4 linked regions of the Homo sapiens genome follow. The protein of the gene in region 1 interacts with the protein of each later gene in a biochemical or structural test. Each region holds a gene or a part of one and is shown in the gene's direction. Other genes may lie near its edges.

Evidence for each region. Proteins that work in one complex are often made in the same cells at the same time.
Region 2: the proteins of KIF17 (region 1) and FRMPD4 interact in a test that uses a peptide from one of them, tested with the Homo sapiens proteins (one large-scale study listed by IntAct).
Region 3: the proteins of KIF17 (region 1) and GRIP2 interact in a test that uses a peptide from one of them, tested with the Homo sapiens proteins (one large-scale study listed by IntAct).
Region 4: the proteins of KIF17 (region 1) and ARHGEF11 interact in a test that uses a peptide from one of them, tested with the Homo sapiens proteins (one large-scale study listed by IntAct).

What each region holds. Positions count from the first base shown.
Region 1 is NC_000001.11:20,683,508-20,687,007, reverse strand, and holds part of KIF17 (kinesin-like protein KIF17), read left to right. Parts: intron 1-881; coding exon 882-962; intron 963-1,987; coding exon 1,988-2,199; intron 2,200-3,500. UniProt on the Homo sapiens protein: Dendrite-specific motor protein which, in association with the Apba1-containing complex (LIN-10-LIN-2-LIN-7 complex), transports vesicles containing N-methyl-D-aspartate (NMDA) receptor subunit NR2B along microtubules.
Region 2 is NC_000023.11:12,715,473-12,718,972, forward strand, and holds part of FRMPD4 (FERM and PDZ domain-containing protein 4), read left to right. Parts: intron 1-596; coding exon 597-1,661; intron 1,662-2,028; coding exon 2,029-3,318; intron 3,319-3,500. UniProt on the Homo sapiens protein: Positive regulator of dendritic spine morphogenesis and density. Required for the maintenance of excitatory synaptic transmission. Binds phosphatidylinositol 4,5-bisphosphate.
Region 3 is NC_000003.12:14,488,607-14,491,974, reverse strand, and holds the end of GRIP2 (glutamate receptor-interacting protein 2), read left to right. Parts: 3' UTR 1-2,868; downstream 2,869-3,368.
Region 4 is NC_000001.11:156,948,243-156,951,742, reverse strand, and holds part of ARHGEF11 (rho guanine nucleotide exchange factor 11), read left to right. Parts: intron 1-43; coding exon 44-170; intron 171-1,725; exon of another isoform or gene 1,726-3,117; coding exon of another isoform or gene 3,118-3,170; intron 3,171-3,223; coding exon of another isoform or gene 3,224-3,244; coding exon 3,245-3,424; intron 3,425-3,500. UniProt on the Homo sapiens protein: May play a role in the regulation of RhoA GTPase by guanine nucleotide-binding alpha-12 (GNA12) and alpha-13 (GNA13). Acts as guanine nucleotide exchange factor (GEF) for RhoA GTPase and may act as GTPase-activating protein (GAP) for GNA12 and GNA13.

The sequences.
Region 1 (3,500 bases):
GTGAGCTGGGTGGGGGGTCTGTGGGAATCCAGCCACCTTTCAGTGACCACGAGGCTTCTGGGATACTGCTCTTCCTCCATCTGGCCCCCTGACCAACATCTTCTCCCTTTTCAACAACCCTCTTGTTTTTAAAACAATGTTCCTCTTGGCCAGGCACATTGGCTCACGCCTGTAATCCCAGAACTTTGGGAGACCGAGGTGGGTGGATCACCTGAGGCCAGGAGTTCAAGACCGGCCTGGCCAACATGGTGAAGTGAAACCCCATTTCTACCTAAAATATAAAAATTAGCCAGGTGTGGTGGCGTGCACCTGTAATCCCAGCTACTCAGGAGGCTGAGGCAGGAGGATCACTTGAACCCGGGAGACGGAGGTTGCAGTGAGCCAAGATCGCACCACTGTGCTCCAGCCTGGGCGACAGAGCGAGACTCCATCTCAAAGAAAAAAAAAGTCCTATTTTCTCCTCTCTTTGTTCTCTGCTTTCCTTTCCTCTGTGTGTGTGTGTGTGTATTTTGTGTGTGTGTGTCTGTGTGTGTGTATTTAGAGAGAGAGATCCCAGGTCTACCACTTCCTTGGTTGTGTGACCTTTCTGGGCTGGGTTTCCTCATCTGTAAAATGAGGTTGCTTCAGAGGAGTGGATGCAGGCAACGCTCCTGGCACACAGCAGGTGCCCACCACACGCCTGTCTTCCGTTTCCTCTCTTCCCTGTTCTCTCCCTCATCTCTTCCCTCCTTTGTGCTCCTTCTCTCGGGAGTGACAGGCAGGGGAGGTTGGGGGGTGGTGGGAGGCCTTGGGGAGTTGAAGTGAGGCCAGGGGTGAGGGAGTAAAGGATGGTTCTGGCCCAAATCAGCCTTCTTTCTCCTCCATCCCCTCTTTCCTCCCAGGTCCCTGCGCCGACAGACCTGCTGGAGCCCAGTGATGCCAGGCCCGAAGCCGAGGCGGCTGATGACTTCCCGCCCAGGCCTGTGAGTACCTCCCCGGGCCTCCATGTGGGGGACGGGGTTCTCTTCAACTTCCTGGGAAACTCCAGCTTGTCTTCTCCCTCCCTGAGCTTCAGTTTCCTCATCCATGAGCTGAGAACAACAACTCCAGCCTTCCCCGGGCTTGTGGCCCGTGGCCAGGCAGTGTGCAGTGGGAGGAACCATCATCTTCTTCTTATGGAGTGAAAGTGGCCTGTTGTTCTAGATGGTGGCTTTCAAACCTTCCTTAGCCTTGTCGCCCTTTGTGTAAAGGAATTGAGGCCCAGTGTGTGCAAAGGACGAGGGCTGCAGGTCAGGGCTGGTGGCCCCTATGACACCATCGGGGAACCCAATTTGAACACCCCAGGGGAGCAAAAGGAGAGGAAGCTTTAAATCTCCCTACATTTATAGAGGAAGAAGACAGTTTGGACTCAAGTGTGGGCTGGGCACCGGGCCTGCAGCAGGCTCTCAGCAGGGCGTAGATGGAGCAGCCGGGGCAGCCCTGGCTAGGAAGTGACTCTGGGGTGGGACCCAGGCGTGAAGGAGGGACGGGGGGAAGCAGCAAGCAGAGGGGATAGCAAGTGCCAAGGTCCTATGGCTGGAAAGACCTTGACTTTCTTAGCAATGGAAAAGGAGGCCACGGTGGCGGGGGAGGCCGTGGAGGCAGGGAGCCGGCAGGGAGGAAAGTGGACTTTCCTGCGAACGTGACGGGAAGTCACATGGGGCTCATCGGGAACGGGATGTGATCGGTTTCTATTTTAAGATGGCCCTGGCTGCCTGTGGAGACTGGATTGTGGGAGGTGAGAGAGGAAGCTGGGAGCCTTCCTCCTAGCGTGGGGGTGTCAGTGGGAATAGCGGCAGTAAGAACTCAACAGGGCGTGTTTTTGTGTCACTGGTGTCCCTGAGCTGGAGGTGATCTGTCGGGGCTGCAGCAGGCGGAATGGCCCCGTCTGGGATTGAGCCACCTGGGAGCTGTCGGCGGGGGTTGGGGCGGCCTTCCCACCTCCACCTGGGTTTCTCTTCACACTCAGGAGGTAGATCTGGCCTCGGAAGTGGCCTTAGAGGTGGTGCGGACAGCAGAGCCTGGCGTGTGGTTGGAGGCTCAGGCCCCGGTGGCCCTGGTGGCTCAGCCTGAGCCCCTGCCGGCCACAGCTGGTGTGAAGAGGGAGAGCGTGGGCATGGAGGTGGCAGTGCTGACTGATGACCCGCTGCCCGTTGTGGACCAGCAGCAGGTGCTGGCCCGGTAAGCAGCAGAGCATGGGGCTGGCGGGACCCCACGGTGAGGTGGGAAGGGGCTGCCTTCCAGGATGGAGGCGGGGGTGCCATAGCTTCCTCCCAGCTCTCCCTTCTAACTTGGCAGGGCGGCCCTGATCCTCTCTCCAGGCGCAGTGGGGACTAGGCGGGCAGGGCTCTGCTCCAGACACAGGCTGCCACCAGCATCCCTTGTCAGGCCTGCTGGCCTTCAGGTTTCAGGAGTCCCAGGGCAGAGTGTCGCAGGCTTTTCTCCCATCCCAGCCAAGCCCCCAGCCCCCTGGCCTCCAGTGCCCTCCTGAATGTGAGACCCACTCACCCACAGGACAAGCCATCCCCAGGCACTCTCTGGGACCGCCGGGGGAGCTGGGCTTTCCTCACTTGCCGTGTGGCTTTGTTAGGTTACTTAACTTTTCTGAGCCTCGGTTCTCACTTCCGTTAATGATGATGTCAGCCCGACCTCCATGTCGTGGTCATCCAGGGGTTCAACAGGCGGAGACCCAGTCCCAGAGGCCACAGTTCAAACACTGAGCGACCCCTGAGTGCTGGGCCCAGGACACAAGGATGAGCAAGCTGCTGCCTCAGCCCCAAGGGCCCACAGGCCAGGGCGGAGGACAGGCAGGGCCAAGAGGGTCCTGTTCTCTAGCAGTTCCCAGCCTGCCTCCTCCACTAGCTCTGCCACCTCGGGCCAACTTGCAACCTCTCTGTGCCTTCACTGCCCATCTTCAGAATGGGCGATATCAGTAGTCCCAGTGTGAGAAGCTTGTGGTGAGGGTCAAAATGGGCATTGCCTGCAGCGTGGCAGCCCCGCGCTGGGCACGCAGTAAACACTTGGCACATGTCCTGGCTGTTTTCACAGTGTGGTGTGGAGGGAAGGCTGGGGGGCCTTCACAGAAGTGGAGACAGCTGAAAAAGGTTTGCTGCAGGGGTGGCATCCTAGAGAAAGGGCACAGCACCTGCAAAGGTGTGGAGGTGGGACCCGGCCCGGGCATTTGGAGACGTGCCAGCCGTGAGTGAAAGCTGGAGTGAACCGCAGAGTGGGGTGCAGGGGAGATAGAGGGAAGACCCTATGTGCCCTCCTCGGGTGCTTGGGCTCCATCCTGATGGAGACCCACAGCAGGATGTTTTTTTCTTTCTTTTTTTTTTGAGATGAAGCCTTGCTCTGTTGCTCAGGCTGGAGTGCAGTGGTGCGATCTCGGCTCACTGCAACCTCTGCCTCCTGGGTTCAAGCAATTCTCGTGCCTCAGCCTCCCAAGTAGCTGGGATTACAGGTGTGCACCATCACGCCCGGCT
Region 2 (3,500 bases), on another chromosome or scaffold:
ACATCCACTAGGATATCAAAAGACTGAAGATAGAAGTTTTGTACTATCATTACAACATTTATCTTAATTTCCTAAAAACTATGGTAAAACTCTGACGATCCTTGACCGTCTCTGAATTCAATGAGGAAAACACTCAATATCTTCCTCCATGAAGTAGGGAATATTAAATCTCACCTTACAAGGAAAAGAACAATTAATGTTCTGGAATAACGGCCTATTGAAATCTCACCTTTAAGGGTAAAAGACATGTTGTATATTTACATTTGTAGATATGAATGAAGCCTTTTAATAATAGAACCAAGGGTCAGATGGAATTAAGCTATACTTCCCTACCCCCAGATGGTATTACATTTTATCAAATAGCAATTACAGTTTATGCAGTATCAATTTTGTTAAGGTCGGTTCTCCTAACCCAAGGAATTCTTACACCTGAAGCCTAAATCAATAAGTACTATATTTGGGTAGTTGAAAAACTGTATTTACATAAGTGATGCTACAAGCCATTAAGTTAAAAAACAGAGACGAGCCTCCCACCCCCGCCCCACCCAAAACCAGACAGTACAGTAATGTGTCTTTGCGTGATTCTTTCTCTTTAGGACCTGAAAACAAGGGGAAGCATAACCTCCTTGGCCCAGATTGGAACTGTATACCCCAAATGACCACCTTTATTGGCGAAGGGGAACAAGAAGCCCAGATAACATACATAGATTCAAAGCAGAAGACGGTGGAGATCACAGACAGCACCATGTGTCCAAAAGAGCACCGGCACTTGTACATAGACAATGCCTATAGTTCAGATGGACTTAACCAGCAGCTGAGCCAGCCCGGGGAGGCCCCCTGTGAGGCAGACTACAGAAGTCTAGCTCAGCGGTCCCTATTGACCCTCTCAGGACCAGAAACTCTGAAGAAAGCACAGGAATCTCCGAGAGGAGCTAAAGTGTCCTTTATTTTTGGAGACTTCGCCTTGGATGATGGTATTAGTCCCCCAACCCTTGGCTATGAAACGCTACTAGATGAGGGTCCTGAAATGCTGGAGAAGCAGAGAAATCTCTACATTGGCAGTGCCAATGACATGAAGGGCCTGGATCTCACTCCAGAGGCAGAGGGCATCCAGTTTGTGGAAAATTCTGTTTATGCAAACATAGGCGATGTGAAGAGCTTCCAGGCCGCGGAGGGGATCGAGGAACCCCTCTTGCATGACATCTGTTATGCAGAAAACACTGATGACGCGGAGGACGAGGACGAGGTGAGCTGCGAGGAGGACCTCGTGGTGGGGGAGATGAACCAGCCGGCCATCCTCAACCTGTCTGGGTCAAGCGATGACATCATTGACCTCACATCCCTGCCCCCTCCAGAAGGTGATGACAATGAGGATGACTTCCTGTTGCGTTCCTTGAACATGGCCATTGCCGCACCCCCACCTGGCTTTAGAGACAGTTCAGATGAAGAGGACTCTCAGAGCCAGGCAGCTTCCTTCCCCGAGGACAAGGAGAAAGGCAGCAGCCTGCAAAATGATGAGATCCCCGTGTCCCTCATTGACGCTGTGCCCACCAGCGCCGAAGGCAAGTGTGAGAAGGGACTGGATAATGCCGTCGTCTCCACGCTGGGAGCTCTAGAGGCTCTATCCGTGTCAGAAGAACAGCAGACCAGTGACAATTCAGGTTCTTTCACAATTGTTACATTCATTCACTGATAACCATATCATTCCATCCTTCCAAGCCATTTGCCCCTGGAGTCCTGTTACGTGGTGTTCTCCATTTCACACATGTCCCATTTCATAAATGTGCTGAAACTGCCATCATGGGTTTTTTTGTGTGTATGTGATTTCCTTTGTTATTTTTTTTTAAAAACATAAGGCACATCTCCCCCCACCCCCATTTCTGGAAAAACTGCAATAAACTCAGAGTCCTTACTGAAAAGGGAAAAACTTGGTATTTTGTTTTAGTAATAACGAGTCCCATTTTCTTACATGTCTCCAAGTGCCTCTGATGCATCCATTAATCAGTTCTTGTTTTTTACGGCATGCAGGTGTAGCCATCTTGCGGGCTTATAGTCCTGAGTCTTCGTCAGACTCGGGCAATGAAACTAACTCTTCTGAAATGACTGAGAGTTCTGAACTGGCCACAGCACAAAAACAGTCAGAAAACCTCTCCCGCATGTTCTTGGCCACTCACGAAGGCTACCACCCCCTTGCAGAAGAGCAGACCGAGTTCCCGGCCTCCAAGACCCCCGCTGGGGGCTTGCCTCCAAAGTCCTCGCACGCCCTGGCTGCTAGGCCAGCAACCGACCTCCCGCCCAAAGTTGTGCCTTCCAAGCAGTTACTTCACTCAGACCACATGGAGATGGAGCCTGAAACTATGGAGACTAAGTCGGTCACTGACTATTTTAGCAAACTGCACATGGGGTCGGTGGCATACTCCTGCACTAGCAAAAGGAAAAGCAAGCTGGCCGATGGTGAGGGGAAGGCACCCCCTAATGGGAACACAACAGGAAAAAAACAGCAGGGGACCAAAACGGCAGAGATGGAGGAGGAGGCCAGTGGTAAATTTGGTACTGTGTCTTCACGAGACAGTCAACACCTGAGCACTTTTAATCTGGAGAGAACTGCCTTTCGCAAGGACAGTCAAAGATGGTATGTGGCCACTGAAGGTGGGATGGCTGAAAAAAGTGGATTAGAAGCAGCAACAGGGAAAACCTTTCCAAGAGCTTCTGGTCTTGGGGCAAGGGAGGCCGAAGGGAAGGAAGAAGGAGCTCCTGATGGAGAAACCAGTGATGGCTCAGGACTTGGTCAAGGGGACCGCTTCTTAACTGACGTGACCTGTGCATCTTCAGCCAAAGACTTAGATAACCCAGAGGACGCTGACTCGTCCACCTGCGACCATCCTTCCAAGCTTCCTGAGGCTGATGAGAGTGTGGCCCGCCTTTGTGACTACCACTTGGCCAAGCGGATGTCATCACTGCAAAGCGAGGGCCATTTTTCTCTGCAGAGCTCCCAAGGCTCTTCAGTGGATGCAGGCTGTGGCACAGGCAGCAGTGGCAGTGCCTGTGCCACACCCGTGGAGTCGCCGCTCTGCCCCTCCCTGGGGAAGCACTTGATTCCTGACGCTTCTGGGAAAGGCGTGAATTACATTCCTTCAGAGGAGAGAGCCCCTGGGCTTCCCAACCACGGAGCCACCTTTAAGGAACTGCACCCACAGACAGAAGGGATGTGTCCACGGATGACAGTGCCTGCTCTGCACACAGCCATTAACACCGAACCCCTGTTTGGCACATTGAGAGATGGATGCCATCGGCTCCCCAAGATTAAGGAAACCACAGGTACAGCAATGATGGATTTAGCACTTTGTATGACATGCCAAGAGCATGTAAACCATATTTACAACAAACTTAAAAACGTAATGTCTGGAAGAAAAGTAAAAGGTAGAATTTTAAAAGGCCACAGAACTGTAAAGTACCAATCATTGATCCCCTGGTATTTAATAAATACTAAAGATTATAAA
Region 3 (3,368 bases), on another chromosome or scaffold:
CTGAGGGCCCTGCATGCTTGTGCCTGGGGTGCTCAGCGCCTCTGCTATCTTGGATTCCCGTGTACTCAGCCCAGAGTGAAAGGGCACTGTCTACCTGTCACAGGGCACCAAGTGAAAGCCAAGAGCCCTCACTTTTGAGGGTGAGGGACAGCACAGCAGAGGTGTGGCTTCTGGATGCAAGCAGCCATAGCTGTGTGACCTTGGACAGGTGGCTCAGCCTCTCTGGACCTCTGCTAAGCAACAGGGCTGGACAGGACACACTCTCAGGGCCTCTCGGCTTGGGAAAACTGCATTGACTCCAGGACTCCAGGCGAGGGAAGATGCACCCGACTCTAACTAATACCCCCCTCCCTCCTCGGGCTGAGGCCTCTGCCATTCTCCCAAAAGTATGCAATCAGGCCCGCGGTGGGCCTCCCAGCCATGCCGGCCTCCTCATATGCAATATTTCTTCTGGCTTCTCATGGGGATGGTTCATCCCCGACTTGAAATTTCCTGACACCTTTCCCCAGTGAGCGCCCTGCCTGCCTATGCATTTTGGGAACAGCCCCTGTGACATGTCCCCTTCCACCTGCCCTCTCCCCCAAAGCTGTATTTTTCTCTGGCTGAGATTAGAACACATTCCTTGTAAAGTATTTTTCTACATCGGGTTTTCTTAGGGCTCTCGGGAAGCACAAGGGGCTGTATTGCAAAGGCCGCTTATGGTCTGTTTGGGGCCCTCGTCTAAGTCTTTGTCCCACCAGGGGTTGCAGTGGCTTGGGGGTAGGTGCCATGGGGATGATTTTTTAAAATAAAATTATTTAAATCCACCTAGAGTAGAAGTTTGCTTTTTAAAAAAATCATGGATTGGCAAGAGTCAGCTTCTGTATGGGTCTGGTGACATCTCACCTGCTTTTGATGATTCATTAATTCAAAAAGTTTGCCATTTGCTTCCATCATCCAGCCCCTGGGCAACATGAATCAGACAGATTTAGGTCATGTCTGCACATTCTGGTGGCAGGCAGACAATCAACAAGTAAGCAAATAAATAATTATTTCAAAAGGCATCAAGTGCAACAAAGAAAACAAGGGAGTAACGGGATAGAGGGACCAGGGTGAGGGGCTTTAGCTCACAATATTAGGAGGGGTTTCTCTCAAGAGGCGACATTTGCAATGAGACCTGAAGACAGGAGCCAGCCTCCATGGAGACCTGGAGGAAGAGTGTCTCAGGCAGCGGGCACAGCTAGTGCAAAGGCCCTGAGATAGGAACGAGTTTGACGGTCTCAAGGAAGAGAAAGAAGGCCTGGGAGGGGAATGGGGCTGGAGACTAGGTTGGAGGTAGCAGGAATCAGTCGTGAAGGCTTGGGTAGGGGGAGCAAATTTGATTCTCTGCGCAGCAGAAAGCCAGAGGCAGGCAGTGGTGCCTGCATATGGAGTCTCTTTAGCCCAGGTTGGGAAGGTAGTGGCAGGAGGGCAGCCTCAGGTCTGGCTGCTGCCCTGGAGTGTCCAGAGAGTGTCTAGGGCAGGTGAGCTACAGGGTCTGGGACCCAGAGGCCAGGGCCAGGCCCCACTGGGGAGGCCACAGTTCTGTGAGCAGAGGAAGAGCTTCTTTCCAGGAAGCGAGTACTCTGTCTTGGGAGTGGTGTAGGCAGGGGGAAGGCCAAGGGAGGCAGCAGGCCTTGCTCTAAGCGCTTTGCAAGAGCTTGCTGGATCCTCCCAATAGCCTTTGGAGGTGGGCTCTATTCCTGTCCCATCATTACAGATGAGGAAACAGGCACAGAGAGGTTACGTAATTTGCCCAAGTCCACACAGGTAGTAAGGGATGGAACCAGGGCTTGAACACAAGCCACATGGCCCAGTACACATAGAGAGAGGCAGGCAGGTAGGCATAGGCTGTCAGAAAGAGCCAGAAAATGGGGGTAGGGTGGTCTTCTATTCTAACATTGTCTATAAATGAGTTACTGAGAATTTTGTCTGGTTAGTTGGGCAAAGGGCTCAACTGACTCCCGAGTTTGTCCATCCCAAAGGGTGGGGGGCGCTGTTGGCAGGAAGGCTGCCCCAAACATGGACCTGTTGTGACCCCAGAGAGCCCCTAACTGGGTATTAATGAGCGCCTGCACCTGACGGTGGGGGAGTGGGAGAAGGGCAATCAGGTTTGCTCCCCCTCTACCCTTTCCCCCACTCCGCCACCCGCTTTCTGCCCTTCTGGCAGGTCAGCCCAAGGCTAAAGAGGAGGGACTGAAAGCCGCAGCAGGTGAGCACCTAAGGCCAAGAGCATCACCTCCAATCATCCTGGTGGCCTTGATGGGGACAATGGTTTATTCCAGATGGGGAAACTGAGGCTCAGGTGACTGCTGCCAGATCTCCCAGCTGTACAGGGCTGGGCATGTAGCAGGTAGAATCAGTAGAGCCAGTAGAGCCAAGAGCTCATGGGCCCGGGTGCGAATCCAGGTTCTTTCATGGACTTGCTGTGTACCCCTGAGTGAGCAAGCTGCTTCCTCTGTGAGCCTCCATGTGGGAACCTCTAACCTGGGAAAATACCTACCTTTGAGGAGCGTCCTGGGATTGGACGGGAAGCCCTTTATAAAATGTAAAGCGTTTGGCAAACGTTGAGGGGGAAATACCTCACCAGAACACAACCCACACATGTTGGATGTTAAAAAGGAAATGTTTATTTTCATGTTATAAGGTGATTACAAACTCCTCTAAAAAAAGCAAAGATGAATTTAAAATATTGATATACATATTTATCTAAAAAGCAAAAGAGAAAAAAACCCCTGCAAAATACAGGGAATCATATCATAAAACATTTATACACAAAAGCTTGTATACTGCAAGACTGAACTACACACCAAGGATCTTGTTCAAATACAAATGTTCCTCCTCAGAAAAGTCTCTTGTTGGTTGATTTTTTTTTTATAAAAGTTTAAAATATCTTAAAAATATTTTGAAGTTTTAAAAAAATGTCCTGATGAGCCAGACATATTTCTGGAAGGAGGCAAGACCCACATTCTCAGCTTTCTCTTGTGCTAAATACAGAGTCACAGTTGCTAGGGATTGGGAGATTAATTGGGTAAAAAAAAAAAATGAAGCCAACATCTCAATTTGAAGTCAAATATATAACAGGATGCTCCATCCCTCGGAGAACACGCCAGAACATGTCTGTAGTGACACCCACAAGAGAACAATGCAAAAATGCTTCCTATTACAACAATATATATTCTGAGGATCAGGGAGAGAAGGAAAGGGGGAGGGCTGCCCCCTGCTTTCTGGACTGCCCACCTCTACAAGTTTGGCTCTCTGGGTTTGTTTTGTTTAGTCTTGTGGTTTTGTACTTCGATTTTTGCACACAGTGGTATTTACCGTGTCCCAGGCAGCCTGGCCTGGGACCA
Region 4 (3,500 bases), about 140 Mb from region 1:
TGAACAGCAAGCCTAGTGTCCTTCATTTTCTTTTTGCTTCTAGTCAAACCAGGCAATGTGAGGAACATCATTCAGCACTTTGAGAACAACCAGCAGTATGATGCCCCAGAACCTGGGACACAACGACTCTCGACCGGAAGCTTTCCTGAGGACCTGCTGGAGAGTGACAGGTAGCACTGGCTGGATGGGACTCGCCAGCTGCTCGAAGAGTGGGTCATGGGCAGGGCTGATGCTAGGGTTTAATTCCAGCTACTTGACCCCTCTCCACTAGCTTCTAAGGCTCCCTTTACAGAACTTCCTCCCCACCCCCAGTATCTTCAGGAGACACATTGTGTGCCAGTGAACAGGCCAGTGGAAGAGCAAGCAGATCCCCGACTTCCAGCCCAAGAACTACACACTTTTCAAATTCCCTTTGGATTTATCACCTGACTACTCAGTAGCCTTCATCCAAGATCGAGCTAGGTGATAAAAAGCAGCTAATCAGGAAACCCTAAGTGACAAGGATAAGGAAGACTATAGTGGGGGCAAGAGGGAGTCCTGGGGAAAAAAGACCCAGGCAGGCAAAAGAAAGTGGTTTCCTGTCTGTATGTGAAGAAGAGAGCCAGAGATGAGGTTCTGCTGGGTACTTTAAAGACAAATGATGTAACTATAGGCATCAGATGTCCACCTCAGCAAAGAGAGGCAAAGTGGATTGATTACAAATGGACTGTTTTTCCCTTTTCAAGAAGAAAAAGGGGAATTGAGACTGGCATCTCTCATATTCTTCTTTGGTCAGGTTCTAACTAGAGTCCCCATCTGGTATGAAAACTTGTTCTTGGACTTACTTGCTCTTGATTGTGGCATGACAGCAGTCAAGTCATGTCTAAAATTCTATAGCCAACACTTAAAAACCAACACCACCCTTAAAGGTGACTTAAACAGGTAGAGTAATATGGTCTTGTGTGGGGGGAAATAATGCTTGTGTACAGTCAAGCCTCAGAGCCACTGAGCTGGAGTATAGGCAGGCATGAAAGCAAGTCAGTATGCAGCAGCGTGGATATTCAAGCCATTTTGCCTTCGTTTGTTTGTTTGTTTGTTTTGGGGATTTTTTTTTCTTTTTTAAAGAGACAGGATCTTTCTCTGTCACCCAGGCTGGATTGCAGTGGTGCAATCATAGCTCACTGCAGCCTCAAACTCCTGGGTTCAAGGGATCCTCCCACCTCAGCCTCCTGAGTAACTAGGGATACAGGCATGCACCACTGCACCTGGCTAATTGATTTTTATTTTTATTTTTTTGAGACAGTCTCACTATGTTGCCCAGCTTGGTCTCGAACTCCCAACCACAGCAATCTTCCTGCCTCAGCCTCCCAAAGTGCTAGGATTATAGGCATGAGCCACTGCACCTGGCCTATTTTGCCTTTGAAATAACTAATTATCAAACCATAAGCCAACCTTTCCTGCTTGAATGCAGGTTACTCCTTTCTGTTTATATGAAGCCTTTTTTCAGCTTAACACGTGTTAAAAGATTTTGCTGCCATGAGAATTGACAGATTTACAGGAGACAAAGGTTAGATTTGTACTGGGGGAAGGTTGAGTTCTAACATTAATGGGTAAGTTAAATACGCAAATTATGTGATTCCTGTGGAAGCACATGATGTCGTAGATATATCAAATATTTTAAGATTATAAGACATCAACATTTTGAGAAAATATTTGAGACCATTTACAAAGTTGCATTCTTGGCATTGCTAGGTAAATTTGCCCTAAGACACTTGCTAGGATCCTAAAGCTACTCTAAGCAGAAGCCTTTGGGTTTGATGATTATCAACTCATTGGCAATCTCAGAAGAAATAGTATTAGCAATATGGTGGGTCAGAGATTGTTGTAGATACTCAACAGGTATAAGATGCCCCAGTTCTAGAAGGCAATACCCTAGGAATTTGGGGGCAAAGACAGATGATATGCCTCACTTCTTGGTGAGGAGCATTACTTACTTCTGGGTGCTTGAAGGAAGGTGCTTAGCTCTGCAGCCCCAGTAACTCCACTGGGTGTTTGTTGTGGTGGTACAGTGACCCATTAGGACACTGAAAAGTGTTCCGAGTTAGTCTGGGTTGGGATTGTTCTAACACAATTCTGGAGGGTGAATTCAATAAGGGATCAGTGGGCAGTATGTTTTCTAACCCTGCAGACAAAACCCTCAGGACCCTAGGAGATGAGCTCCATTTTGGATCATCTGGCAGTTTGGGCACAATGAATGGAGACCGAGACATTTAGCTCCTCATTGCAGCAACCTGCTGTGCTATTAAGAGCTCTGCAGACATTTCCAGGCCTCCTGTGGTCCTAGAAGCAGAGCAGGATGTAGATTACTAATAATATCAGAAAACCAGCCCAACAGGGCCACAGCATGGAGGTGGGGTGACCATCCTGGGGCAGCTAGGGGTCAGAGGTGCCAGCTGTCTTGGGCTGATGCACTGCAGGACTCGACACCGCAACACCCAGTCATCAGCATCTCATCAAACCCCAGAGACACTCAGTAGCCAAGCACGGCAGGCCAAGGAGCGGGTCCTGCCTATCAGTAAAAAGGCCCCTTTAAGCACAAGCCTGTCTGCTCTTGAGAGGAAATGGAATCTTAGGAACAGTATTGTTAAGATAAGAATGGAACTCATCCACATCACAACTGGAAGGCTAAGAATCCAGCAGCAGATAGAACTTTCTGACAGGCAGTGTGGAAAATCCTAAAATGAGCTGTGAATATAGTGACTCCACTTTCCTCTTAAGACCTCTTAAAAGAGGTTCGCCTCAGGCAGAGTTAAAGGTGGGAGCTGACCCGTTCCAAAGCAGAGGCAACGTGAACTGGCCACTAGGGGCAGGGAGCTGGGACCTTGTGTTCCCTGTTGAGGGACGATGATGTCTACCACCTTCTTGACAGAAGCATGGTGTCTCAGGCCTCTGGACACACTACAACTCAGAGTCTGTTAGCCCCAGATTTCATCTTCCTGTTAGGATCCCTTCCTAATAGCTCCAGAGGAAGATGACTGTCCATCCATCAGGCTAGGCTGGGGAGAGAGGAGGAGTTTGTAGAGCAGCAAAAATAGTCTGTCATTGAGAAGCTTCCACTGCCATCCAGCTGCTTTGGCCATGTTCAGGAGGAGAACCTGTGGCACGGAGGCATCTTTGAGATGGAGCCACAGGTAAGAGTTAGCCAGGATGTAAGCATGGCCCACTGACTTCCCAAGTCCCAAAGTCTTTTGTCCCTTCCCCCCAGTTCACGCTCAGAGATTCGCCTGGGCCGCTCTGAAAGCCTCAAGGGCCGGGAAGAGATGAAACGGTCTCGAAAGGCAGAGAACGTGCCCCGCTCTCGCAGTGATGTTGACATGGATGCTGCTGCGGAGGCTACTCGCCTGCACCAGTCAGCCTCGTCCTCTACCTCCAGCCTCTCCACCAGGTGGGCAGGGCTACAACGGCTGCACCCATGGACATCTCAGGGGTGGCGGCAAGGATAGAGGGTTGCTGAGAGTTGA